3 separate regions of the Homo sapiens genome follow, and all the other regions are linked to region 3. The links come from fine-mapping of genetic effects on gene expression. A gene starts in region 3. Each other region holds a variant in brackets. All regions are shown on one strand. Distances are from middle to middle.

Region 1 (4,241 bases), 64 kb after region 3:
CGTGCCTGCGCTCCTGGCCTGGGCTACCCTGCTGGATGGGCAAGAAGTGCAGGATGTGGGGCTGAGCCATGTCAGAAACCTTCACTCCCAGTCCTAGATAACCTTGTCCTTCCTGAAAGGTGAGAAGGAATGCTATTAGCTATATTACCTTTACCATGGCTCCCAGAGTTCATTGTAGAGAAAGAACTGTGGCATGTGTGTGTGTGTGTGTGTAACATGTTGCTTACGCTGCTCAGGGCATAAGTGTCATAAGATGTCCAAGCAACATGGGACATAAACTAATCTGCATGACAGAGGGAGAGAATGGGAGACTGAGAAGCTGGTGAGGGGGTAGAAGGCTGGTGCTGTGTGGCCTGAATGGGCAAGGAGAACCTCGCTCACCCCATGCCAACCAAAAAGACATGAAAACACAGACATCTGTGGTATGACTTGGAGTTGTGTGCCTGTGGTCTGTGTGAAGGCCCTACCATCCCTGCAATTCTCCAGTTTAAAACAAAGACTCCTAGAAGCTTGTAAGCTTTGTATGTGTGCAGTCTTTATGAAAACCAAAGAACAGACTTCTTTTATGTTTTTTGAATCGGGGTCTCACTCTGTTGCCCAGGCTAGAGTACTATGACTTGATCATGGGTCACTGCAGCCTCCAACTCCTGGGCTCAAGCAGTCCTCCCACCTCGGCCTCCTGAGTAGGCAGGCATGCGCCACCACACCTGGTTAATTTTTTTTACTTTTTTTTTAGAGATTGGGTCTTGCTGTGTTGCCTAGGCTGGTCTCCAGCTCCTAGGCTCAAGGGATTCTCCTGCCTCGGCCTCCCAAAGTGTTGGGATTACAGGTGTGAGTCACTGTGCCTGGCTGTTTTTTCCATTAGTGGAAAAAACTTTTTAGCTTTTTCAAAAGAATCAGTTCTTGGATTTATCAATTCTGCTTTTTCTGTTTTTCTAATTCATTAACTTCAGCTTTTATTTTTATGATACTTTAAAACTTACACCTTTCTCCTTTTTTCTATCTTCTCTAGTTGGCTATTTCATTCATTTTTATTTCTCTTGTGTAATATATATATATATATACACATACATACATATATATACATATATACATATACATACATACATATATATACATGTATGTGTATATATATATACACACATATATATATCTCATACCACTTTGGGAGGCCGAGGTGGGCAGGTTGCTTAAGCTCAGGAGTTCGAGACCAGCCTGGGCAACATGGCGAAACCGTCTCTACAGAAAATTAGCTGGGCATGCTGGCATGTACTTGTAGTCCCAGCTACTCAGGAGACTGAAGCTTGAGCCTGGGAAGCACAGGTTGCAGTGAGCTGAGATCACGCCATTACATTCCAGCCTGGATGGCAGAGTGAGACCCTGTCTCAATGCGGCACAGTGCCTAATGCCTGTAATCCCAGCATTTTGGGAGGTTGAGGCGGTCAGATCCCTTGAGGCCAGGAGTTCGAAACCAGCCTGGCCAACATGGCAAAACCCGTCTCTACTAAAAATACTAAAATTAGCTGGGTGTCGTGGTGCACACTTGTAATCTCATCTACTTGGGAGGCTGAAGCAGGAGAATCACTTGAATCTGGGAGGTAAGGTTGCAGTGAGCCAAGATCGCGCCACTGCATTCCAGCACTCAGAGCAACAGAATGAGACCCTGTCTCAAAAAAACAAACAAACAAAAAAAGTCAAACAATGTTGAGAGTATTTGCAGTCTTCCTTATCCTACCTCTTAATGCACTTAGATATGTACAAGAATATATATTCATTTCATGGGTTAATATAATTTTGTTAATGCCACATAACAAGGAAGTGTTTTAAATTTATTTTTATTTTTGAGACAGTCTTGCTCTGATGCCCAGGCTCGAGTGTAGTGGCGTGATCTCGGC[T/A]CACTGCGGTATCTGCCTCCCAGGCTCAAGTGATTCTCCTGCCTCAGCCTCCTGAGTAGCTGGGATTACAGGCACACACCACCATGCCTGCCTAATTTTTGTATTTTTAGTAGAGATGGGGTTTCGCCATGTTGCCCAGGCTGGTCTCGAACTCCTGGCCTCAAGTGATCCACCTCAGCCTCCCAAAGAGCTAGGATTACAGGTGACCACGCCTGGCCATGAGGAAGGGTTTTTAAAGATTTTGCAGGGCCAGGCACAGTACTCACACCTGTAATCCCAGCACTTTGGGAGGCTGAGGCAGGCGGATCATGAAATCAGGAGATCGAGACCATCCTGGCTAACACAATGAAACCCCATCTCTACTAAAAATACAAAAAAATTAGCTGGGCGTGGTGGCGGGCACCTGTAGTCCCAGCTACTTGGGAGGCTGAGACAGGAGAATGGCGTGAACCCAGGAGGCAGAGGTTGCAGTGAGCCAAATTCACGCCACTGCACTCCAGCCTGGGCGACAGAGCGAGACTCCATCTCAAAAAAAATGCAATAATATGGAGAATTTTATAATATAGTAGTATACAATTTATTTACTAGCCCCCTATCTCTTACAAATTTGCTAAAATCTCTTGTAAATATTGTTCCAGCTTTTTAAAAAATCATGTTCCTATTATCTTAGATATGGCTACTCTAAAATGGCTTTAAATTTCCTATTCATACTATAATAATTGAAACCCAACCATAATTTAATTTTTTCACATTTTTACACCTTGAGATATAATTTACATACCATAAAATTCACCTATTGTAAGTATATATAAATCAGTAGTTTTTAGTAAATTTATAGTTATAACACCATCATCACAATCCAGTTTTAGAACATTTCCATCACCACAAAAAGTATTCTCATGCTAGTTTACAGTCAATCTCTGCTCCATTCTTAGTCCCACATAACCACTGATCTACTTTCTGTCTTGATAGATTTGACTTGTCTGAATATTTCAGGTAATTGGAACCATATAATTATGTAAACTTTTGTGTCTGGCTTCTTTCACTGAGCATAAAGTTCCTGTGGTTCATCCACGTACCTGAATATATCAGCGGTGTGTTCTTTTTTTATTGCTAAATATTATTCCATTGAATTGATGTACCACATTTATCCATTCACCACTTTTTGGAATTACTATTATTTCTTGCTTGGGGCTATTATAAATATTGCTCCTATAAACATTTGCATACAAATCATTACGTGAAAATATGTTTTCATTTCTCTTGGGTAGAACCTAGGAGTGGAATTGCTGGGTCATATAGGTAGGTTTATATTTATGATTTTAAGAAATTACATTGTAAGAAAAGCGGTTTTTACAGTGTAGTTGCACAATCTTAACATCCCTACCAGCAATGCATGAGGGTTCTAGTTTCTCTGCATTCATACAAACACTTATCCGTCCTTTTGATTATAGCCATTCTAGTGTGTATCTCATGATTTTAATTTGCATTTTATAATGACTGACGATGCTAGATATCTTTTAATGTGCTTATTAGGAATTTATAACGCTTCTTTGATGTAATATATATTTGTATCTTTTTGAATTAATCTCTTTTTTCAAATTGAGACAGGGTCTCACTGTGTTACCCAGGCTGGTCTTGAACCCCTTGGGCTCAGGCAGTCCTCCCACGTTGGCTTCCCGAAGTGCTGGGATTACAGTTATGAGTCACTGTGCCTGGCCATCTGTATCATTTATCCATTTTAAAATCAAGTTGTCTTTTTATTGTTGAGTTGTTATATATTCTGGATACAAGTACTTAATGAGAAATATGATTTGCAAATATTTTCTCCATATTTGTGGCTTTTCTTTTTTTTCTTAATGGTATAAGAAAATTTTGAAGTATAAAAGTTCTTAATTTTAATAAATTCCAATTTATGTTTTTTCTGTTAGCAATCATGCTTTTGGTGTTATAGTTAAGGACTCTGCTTAAAGTTACGAAGATCATTTCATATCCTTTCTCTTACACTTACTCTTAGCTCTCACATTTAGATCTGTGAACCATTTTTTTTGAGGTCCAATGTAAGGGTCTAAATTAATCTTTTTGCATATGGATATCCAGTTGTCCTCACATCATTTCTTGCAAAGACTAGCTATTCCCCCATTAAATTGACTTAGCATCTTTTTGTCAAGAATTGACCATAAATGTAAGGGTGTATATCTGAGTTCTAAACTATGTTCCATTAACTTATATGCCTCTCCATATACCAGCAACACATTGTCTTGATGACTTTAATTATAGTTAGTTAGTTGGATTGTGTAAGTCCTTTAACTTTGTTCTTTTTCAAAATTGCTTTGACTACTTTGG
Region 2 (4,241 bases), 140 kb after region 3:
AAAAATTAGCTGGACGAGGTGGCAGGCGCCTGTAGTCCCAGCTGCGCGGGAGGCTGAGGCAGGAGAATGGCGTGAACCCCCGGGGGCAGAGCCTACAGTGAGCCGAGATCGAGCCACTGCACTCCAGCCTGGGCGACAGCGAGACTCCGTCTCAAAAAAAAAAAAAAAAAATGCCACAGTCCTCAAGACCATTGGCCCAGGGAAGCCTGGGTGAGGTGAAGTTGACCCAGCACGAACTCACTGGGACTCAGGTGGCTGTAAAAATAAAATCTATAACTAGGGGCTCCCCCAGCCTTCTGAGTCTACACAGAAAGGTAGACGTCATGAAGGCCCTGAGTGTCCCATCATAATAAAGCCATATCATGTCATTGAAACCTCAGACATCCCATACTGAGCTATGGTGATACTCATAGTGAAGACCTTTTCCACCAAACACTCCAGCCTGGCCACATGGAGAAGGAGGAGGCTCAAGCCATGTTTCTGCAAATACTATCTGCCCTGTAGTACTGCCACCAAAGTCAGCCGCCAGGACCTGGGTGGCAGGACTCCTGCATGAAGAGCACAACATGAAAAGAGCTGACTTTGGCTTCAGCACCACATATTCCCAAGGCCAGAAGCTGAGCGCCTTTGGTGGGACTCCCCTTAAGCTGCCCCAGAACTCTTCCTGGGCCACGAGTATCACAGCCCTGCAGTGGTCGTGTGGGTCTTGGCTCTCCCGTCTACCACATGGGGCCAGGGCCCTGCCATTTGGCAGGCAGAACTTCTCAGCCTCAAAAAAACATACTCAAGGAAAATATGTACTGTCTATATTCCTTCCGAATTGAAATATTTATCAAGAAATTTCTGATCCTTGACCCCAGAGAATGACCCACAGAGGACCAGCTGATGCGGGACCCCTGGGTCAATGCTGGCCAGGGAACCCTTGGGCCACACATAGAGCTGCTCCCCAGTCACCTGGGCCCCCTAACAACCTGACTCTTGGTAGCCGTGACATTCTAGGCACATCAAGGAATCCCCAGTAGGAAAAAATATATATATAATTATTCCATGGCCACCTACCTAATCCTGGGGATCCCACTGACCTTCCCCATCCCCCAAAGTTAAGTCCAACTTTTCTGTCCAACCAAAGGGGAGTCAAGGGCTGGAATGTTTGGTGAAAAAGGTCTTGACTGTGGCCTTTCCCACCCTTACTTCAGAAATCCAGCAACCCAAGGAGGACCAGGGCCAGGGCAGAAGATGCCCAGAGAAGCCACCTTGCCTGCTTGTCCCCTTCTGGGCCTGGAGGTGATGTGACCCAATACCAGCACATCTCCGAGTGTGGCCCTGTGGCCTCCCCCTCCATCCAGAGCACCAGCAGCAGTGGGAGCGGCCCAGGAGTCAACTGCCCCCAGGGAACATCCCAGGACGTCAGTTCTGTCCATGTGGGAGACCCAGGAGGAGTCACCTGTCCCCAGGGAACAGCCCGGGAAGCCAGCACCCTCTCCACTGGGCATCAGATGGTGTGACCTCAGCCTCTCCCTGTGAAGAGAGCCAGGGCTGCCAGGGAGCCACTAGATTTGTCTTCAAAAACATTTTGCTTCCTCCTGGCCCCAAAGACCCACTGTGCATGGAGAAATACAGTGGCTCCAGTAAACCCAGGGGACAGCTGCGGCCCAGACACAAACCAAGCGGAGGGTGGGGGGCAAGCTGCCTTTTCTGCACTTTATTTTATTTATTATGCTTTTGTTGGTTTCTTTTTTTGTTTTTAGAAAATGTCTCTGAGTCATATGTTCATTATTATTATCATTATTATTTTGAGATGGAGTCTCACTCTCTCGCCTAGGCTGGAGTGCAGTG[G/T]CGCAATCTCTGCTCACTGCAAGCTCTGCCTCCCGGGTTCACGCCATTCTCCTGCCTCAGCCTCCCAAGTAGCTGGGACTACAGGCACCTGCCACCACGCCCGGCTAATTTTTTGTATTTTCAGTAGAGACGAGGTTTCATCATATTAGCCAGGATGGTCTCAATCTCCTGACCTGGTGATCCGCCCGCCTCGGCCTCCCAAAGTGCTGGGATTACAGGCGTGAGCAATGGCACCTAGCCGTTTATTATTTTTTAATTATTATTTTTAATTGGAAAATTATGCTTGTATTCATTTATGGGATATAATGTGAGGATTAGATAGATGTGTGCACCATGGAATGATCAAATCTTAGCATCTCCATCACCTCAGAAAGGCAAATTCCACATGAAGTTACGGAAGTCTTGATCGAAAAATGTTGACCCCGTAGAAGTAGCGAGTAGATCAATGGTGACCAGGGGCTGGGTATCAGGTGTGGGGGTGGGAAAGAGGGAGAGAATGGAGAGTTGTTGCTCAAAGGACCAAAGTCTGAGATGGACAGGAAGAAGAGGTTTTCACATCCAGTGCACAGCAGGGTGACCAGAGTCAATGAGAATGTATTGCGTATTGCAAAACACCTGAGGGAGTCCATGTCAGTCAAATGTCTTTCTGTACTTAGAATGGAGAGGACGAAGGCCCTGAGGTCCAAGAACACTACAAACATGACAGGTCAGCCACGTGTGGGCTCCAACGGCCGCATGGGAGAACTGGGCAAGACACCCTCGCTGCTGTGTGTCTGACACCCCCAGCCTGGAGGCCTTGTCCAGTGGAGGACAGAAGTGTGTAAAGTGGCAGAGGGGTCTCTGCATGGGATTCAAATCAAGTAAGCTTCTGGTAGCCGTGTGGCCTTGAAAGCATTCTTATCCAAAGGAAGGGGTGAGATGGACCGCCTGGAGCCTCCTGGACATCAGAGGGCGCCTCCATCCCACCTAGTGGAATGTAAAAGCCTGGACAGTGTTTCCTGGGGCACTTCTCCCCTGCCCTGCTCTTCTCTGTCTTTTCTTCATCCAGATGGTTCTAATTTGGCTCATGTTAGGGTAGGAGAGAAGATATGGCCCAGGGCACTGTCTCTTCCTCCTGTGTGCTCCTGCTTCCTCTGCCCTGCCACCTCCTTCTCCCCTAACCCCGCCCAGGTCACTGCAGTCCTCTCTCCATTTGGAGGCAGCCAGAGTGATAGTGCAGCCCCCCGGGAGGCCATGGCCGGGAGCTTTGTGGGCAGCAGCCAACGGAGTGCCAGAGGCACTCGACCTGCCCACGGGAGCAGCTTCCATTTGTTCACACTAATCCAGGGCGTGCCCTCACGGGGTAGCTGGGGAGCACAAACTGTGTGCACTTGGATATCCTCCAGGGATTCTGCAGAGTCTAAAGGGGACGGTGGAGGGGAAGTGTCCTCTGGCTGTGCCCCTGAAGTCTGATTGTGCCTCCGGGGTCTGCACACAGCCGCAGAGCAGGGGATGACCACAGGGCCTCTCTGGGGACACCTCCTAGCTGCCCCCACATGGCCACTGATGCACCCAGGGCCTCAGGTGTGATTCGACAGTCACTGGCCCGGGTCCCCTCAAAGCAAAACGGGGGCTCCAGGGTGGGCAAGGGTGAGGGTGTGACCCCAGAAGAGTCATGAAAGGATAAGGAGGGGAGTGGCTCTTAGTTTCTGGGCACACCCCTCCCCTCTCCTGTGCAAGGGAAAATGATAGAGGGAACATGGCAAAGGAGACCAGGCTCTGGAGAGGGCTCTCGGTCTCCACCCTCCCCAGGCAGCCTGTGCGACTCTAGCCTAGTTATTGGAGTTGGCGTTGTGCCTCAGTTAGCATAGTTCAGAGGTAGGATTTGTAGTCAGGGTAGTTAGGAGGCACCACGGAGGAGGGATCAGCCTCCAACGCACTTGATGAAGAGATCCAAAAGTGTAGGATCCTCAAGACCATCGGCCAGGGCACGTTCGGTGAGGGCACACTGGTCCAGCATATGCTGACAGGGACCCAGGTAGCCATGGAAATCATCCCGAAGAAGGCTGGCTCCCCCGCATCACTCTCCAGAGAGGTCAGTATCACGGAGACCCTCAAGCGTCTGAACATTCAGCTCCATCAGGTGACTGACACCATAGACACCGACTATTTGGAGATGGAGTGCGTCGGACGAGGACAGCTGCACCACCAGATATGCCACCACAGCCACATCGAGGAGGAGGAGGAGGCCCACACCCGGTTCAGGCAGATTCCGTCAACACTGCAGGACTGCCACTTAAAGAACATCTCACATGGAGACCTAAAGCCACAAAACATCCTACTGGATGAGGATGGCAACATCAAATACCTGGACTTTGGCTTCAGCACCACACTTACGAAGTGTGCCAGCCTTTTGTGGCACGTAC
Region 3 (4,241 bases):
AGACACCATCTCTCTCAGGGCAGTGGTTCCATATTCTGGTTGTGCAATACAATCTTGGTGGTAATTTAAAAATATGGCTCCCGTTCCTATTATTTATTGCACAACAAATCACCCCAAAACTTAGTGGTTTAAGAGAGCAACAATTTGCTTATAAATCTACAATTTCTCATGATGGAGACAGCTTGTTTCTGTTCCTCAATGTCAGCCAGGGTGGCTCAAAGACTGAGGGCTGGGATCATTTGAAGTCTTGCACTCTCATATGTCTGGGGGTTGAGGCTGCAATTGGCTGGGAACCGTCAGTCACAACAGTTTCATGTGGCCATTTCACATGGCTGCTTGGGCTTCCTCACAACATGCTAGCTGGATTCCTAGCATGAATACTATACCTCAAAAGAACAGGGCAGAGGTAGATGGAATTTATATGACCTGGCCTCAGAAATCACATAGTGTCATTTCCTCTGCACTCTTTTGACTGAGCCAGTCACAGAGGTCTGCCCAGTTTCCAGAGAAGGAGACTAGACCCCCCAACTGGGTGGGAGGAATGTGAACCTCACAATGCCTGCCGGAAGATTATGTGGGAGGGGATCTTTTGAGGTGGCTGTCTTTGGAAAATACAATCTGCCACTGGTTTCTAAGCTCCACCCCTGGAGAGTCACTTCCACAGGTCTTTAATGAAGCCTCAGAATTGTATTTTTGACATGTAGGTGTTTCCAGTGCACATCCAGGATGGCACATTGGCCCTTGGTCCAAGACCTCTGGCCTCTCACTATTGAGCTTGGGAAGAGATTGGCTTCTGTCCTAGGTGGTGATGTGATCTAGGAACCTTTGGAGGGAAACCAGCCTCAGGCCAGTGGGTAGGACCTGGGGAGCAGGAGGCCTGATGTCTGTCCAAGAGTGGTGGTAGTGTTGAACTGCCCTTGTTAAAGGGCCCTTTTGGGGGCTGGTGTATCTGAGTAGCTTTGTATTCTTCCAGCCCTTCATGTGTCTCCTGAGCACTTCCTGGCATACAGACAGCAGTCTCCAGGCTGCTGCAGGTGGGGTGTGGGCAAGGTGGTTGCCGTTCTCGTGCTAAGAGTTTGAACCCACTCCTCACAGGGCCCACTGCCATTTGGTGTCTTCCCTAACAGCTGTACTTGAGGCTGTTTTTCAGACTGAACCCGAGGAGTATTGGAGCACCCAGTATTAAAGGGGCTGTCCCATGCCCTGAGAGCGGTCTGGGGAGGCATGCACTGGGAGGCTCAGGACTTGGGTCTCAGCCCCAGCTGCGCCACAGTTTTGCTCTTTGACACAAAGTAGGTCATAGCTCAACTCAGCTAAAGTTTTCTTAATAGCCAAGCTTGTGTGTAGCCTCAGCTCCCATTCTCTTGAACAAACTGACTGCCGGAGCAGGGTGCCCTCCCTCAACAGAAGACCTGCCTTGGCTCCCCATTGCCCATAGTCCTGTGCCCTAACCTGCCCTGTGGGGCTATGTACCATGGGCCCTGCACACTGCTACAGCCTCGCCACCCATTCCTGAAACTTGCCATGCCCTTTCACCTCTATGGGCCTTTGCATATGCTGTTCCTCTACCTGGGATGCTTTCTCTTGCTTTCACCGCCTCTGCCTAGTCACCCCCCAGATTTGGCGTTGCTCACTTCCTCCATGAGGCCTACCCCAGCCCTCTGTCCCAGCCGCTTGCTGTGCTGAGGTCCTCTACATTAGGAGCCGCAGCCAGGGCTCTCAGCTTGGGTGGTTTAGCAGACGAGCGGAGGCTTTGGAGTCAGGCAGTCCGGATTTCAACACAGTGCTGCGCCCTACTTGCTGTGTGACCTCGGGCGAATCGCTTCACCTCTCTAAGCTTTGTTTTCTGATCTCTGAGTTGGCGCTCATGATCACTAACAAGAATTCTCATGCTATTTTAAGGACATCAGCGACAGAAGCAGAGAATCTAATGAGAGGGATCGTGGGGAGGTCTGGTTTTTAAGGACATCGGCGACAGAAGCAGAGAATCTAATGAGAGGGATCGTGGGGAGGTCTGGAGTTTGCAGAGCCCACAGCTTCCTTTGCTTTTATTAAAGAATGGGAGGTGGGAGCTGATGGAGGGGGAGGAAGGAGCCATCAACCCCTACCTCCCATCGTACGGGCAAGGACCAGGCTTATAGTAGGTGCTGACGTTCCGAGTAGAAACTCCTTAATGAGTGAATGCATGAGTGAAGGAATGAAGGCAGCTGGTTTCTGAACCTGGATGTAGCCATTTGACAAACTGCGCGCAGTGGCTGAGGGGGAAAGCCCCGCCCCGCGGAGCCCCGCCCCCAGGCCGCACGCCCTCGCGTCTCCTAGCAACCGCCAAACGTAGCTGAGTGGCTGGGCCTGCGGCCCTCCCTGCACCGGCGGACGCTCCTCTCAGTCTTGGAGTCTCTTCGCCCAGGTGGCTGTGGATCCGGTACGGGAGTTGCCGCCGCGGTCCAACTCCCCGCTGCCGCCCAGCGCATCCGCTCGCAGGTACCGCCAGCACCTGGAGGGGAACCCCGACCCCTGCCCCCACCTCGGCCGCCGCAGCCCGGGACTCTTCCCGCCTCGCCTCGATGCGTGTTCCCTCTTCGGCGTTTGCCCGGCGTTCCGCCTCCATGGGCCTGAGCTGATGCCCCGAGCCCAGCACCCAGTGCACATTCATGTTCTGTCTTGGGGACAGGGCTTGCCCTCCCCGACCTCGCCAGGCTCCTGCACGTGCTGCCCCCGGCCTGGTTTGCCTCTCCCCAAATAGCAAACGCATCTTGTGCTTAGGCGCAGCAGGCCTGCCTGAGCAGACGTCCCCTCTCCCGCCTGGTGGCTCCCGGGAGCTGCTCACCTGGGGCAGGCATTCCAGAAGCCCGGCGACTGACTCCTGGTTAGGCGAAGGAAACGGGGTTGCTCGTCGTCGTGCTTACTGCCAGCCACCCTTATCTGTTGTTCCTTCATCCATTCATTCTCTAAGTCGATTGAGTACCGACTGTGTGGCAGGCAGTGAAGGAGCCCCGGCGTTCATCTAGGAGCAGGCGGGGGAAGCAGGGAAGAGAAGGGTGGGTGCTTCTGCAGGAGGCCGGGCTTACCTCCTGGAGCAGCCCTGGAATACAGGCGGGGACAGCCTTCACTTTCTCCCTGCCAGGAGCGCCGGCGGCCAGCAGTGCGCTCTGCAGCATGTCGCTACATGCCTGGGAGTGGGAAGAGGACCCCGCAAGCATAGAGCCCATCTCCTCCATCACTAGCTTTTACCAGTCCACGAGCGAGTGTGACGTGGAGGAACACCTGAAGGCCAAGGCCAGGGCCCAGGAGTCTGACTCTGACCGCCCGTGCAGCAGCATCGAGTCCTCATCTGAGCCTGCCAGCACTTTCAGCTCCGACGTGCCCCACGTGGTCCCCTGCAAATTCACCATCTCACTGGCCTTCCCTGTGAATATGGGTAGGTGCTAGAGCAGAAGTTTAACACCCTCTGAAAAAAGGAGGTGCATGACTTTCTGCAGGAGTTTAGGGCGCATACACCCCACATCCTCTCTCCACCTGCCCCACCCCAAAGCGGGCTGGCCAGTGCCAGCCAGGAGCAGAGGTTGAAAAGAAACAGCAATTTTAGGAGAGGCCCAACTGTGGCTGCATCAGCTTCACATACTTAATCCTCTCAACAACCCTAAAGCAGGTGATGTTCTGTCTGCTTTTTACAGAAGAAAAAAAAACCATGGAGAGGTTAAGGCATTGATTCTCATAAGCGCTTGTGCATCACCTAATACCTTGTTTAAAATACATTTTCCGGGAGTCTGAGGCAGGAGAGTCTCTTGAACCCCGGAGGTGGAGGTTGTGGTGAGCAGAGATCACGCCATTGCACTCCAGCCTGGGCAACAAGAGCAAAACTCTGTCAAAAAAAAAAAAAATAATAATTCTTTTTTTATTGAGATGGAGTCTTGCTCTGTCACCAGGCTGGAGTGCAGTGGTGCGATCTCAGCTCACTGCAACCTCAGCCTTCCGGGTTCAAGCAATTCTCGTGCCTCAGCCTCCCAAGTAGCTGGGATTACAGGTGCACGCCACCACACCCATCTAATTTTTGTATTTTTAGTAGAGACTGGGTTTCACCATGTTGGCCAGAATGGTCTCGAACCCCTGACCTCAGGTCATCCTCCTGCCTCAGCCTCCCAAAGTGCTGGGATTACAGGCATGAGCCACCGCACCCGGCCAAAAAATACATTTTCTCTGATCTGTTGAATCAATCTCTGAATGTAAAGGTGTATCAATTA

What was found. PIP is the estimated chance that this variant, and not a neighbour inherited with it, causes the effect. A credible set is the group of variants that fine-mapping cannot tell apart.
Region 1: its variant is the best candidate, but not a certain one, in a credible set for the expression of CFAP92 in transverse colon (GTEx, PIP 0.68).
Region 2: its variant is the best candidate, but not a certain one, in a credible set for the expression of CFAP92 in cerebellum (GTEx, PIP 0.59).

Annotation. Positions count from the first base shown.
Region 1 is chr3:128,928,351-128,932,591 of GRCh38, reverse strand. The region is part of intron 12 of CFAP92 (cilia and flagella associated protein 92 (putative)); the gene reads left to right. Among named protein-coding and RNA genes, the nearest start is that of ACAD9, 51 kb to the right of the region's middle. RefSeq lists an enhancer at 1-378. The variant T/A (reference allele first, on the strand shown) is at 1,896.
Region 2 is chr3:128,848,937-128,853,177 of GRCh38, reverse strand. It overlaps the pseudogene MARK3P3 and the pseudogene MARK2P6. Among named protein-coding and RNA genes, the nearest start is that of MIR12124, 4.2 kb to the right of the region's middle. The variant G/T (reference allele first, on the strand shown) is at 1,837.
Region 3 is chr3:128,992,220-128,996,460 of GRCh38, reverse strand. CFAP92 (cilia and flagella associated protein 92 (putative)) reads left to right here and starts at 2,385. Exons shown (of 16, transcript NM_001394090.1): 1 at 2,385-2,481; 2 at 3,125-3,418. The coding sequence starts at 3,157. RefSeq lists a silencer at 2,170-2,379 and an enhancer at 2,956-3,717.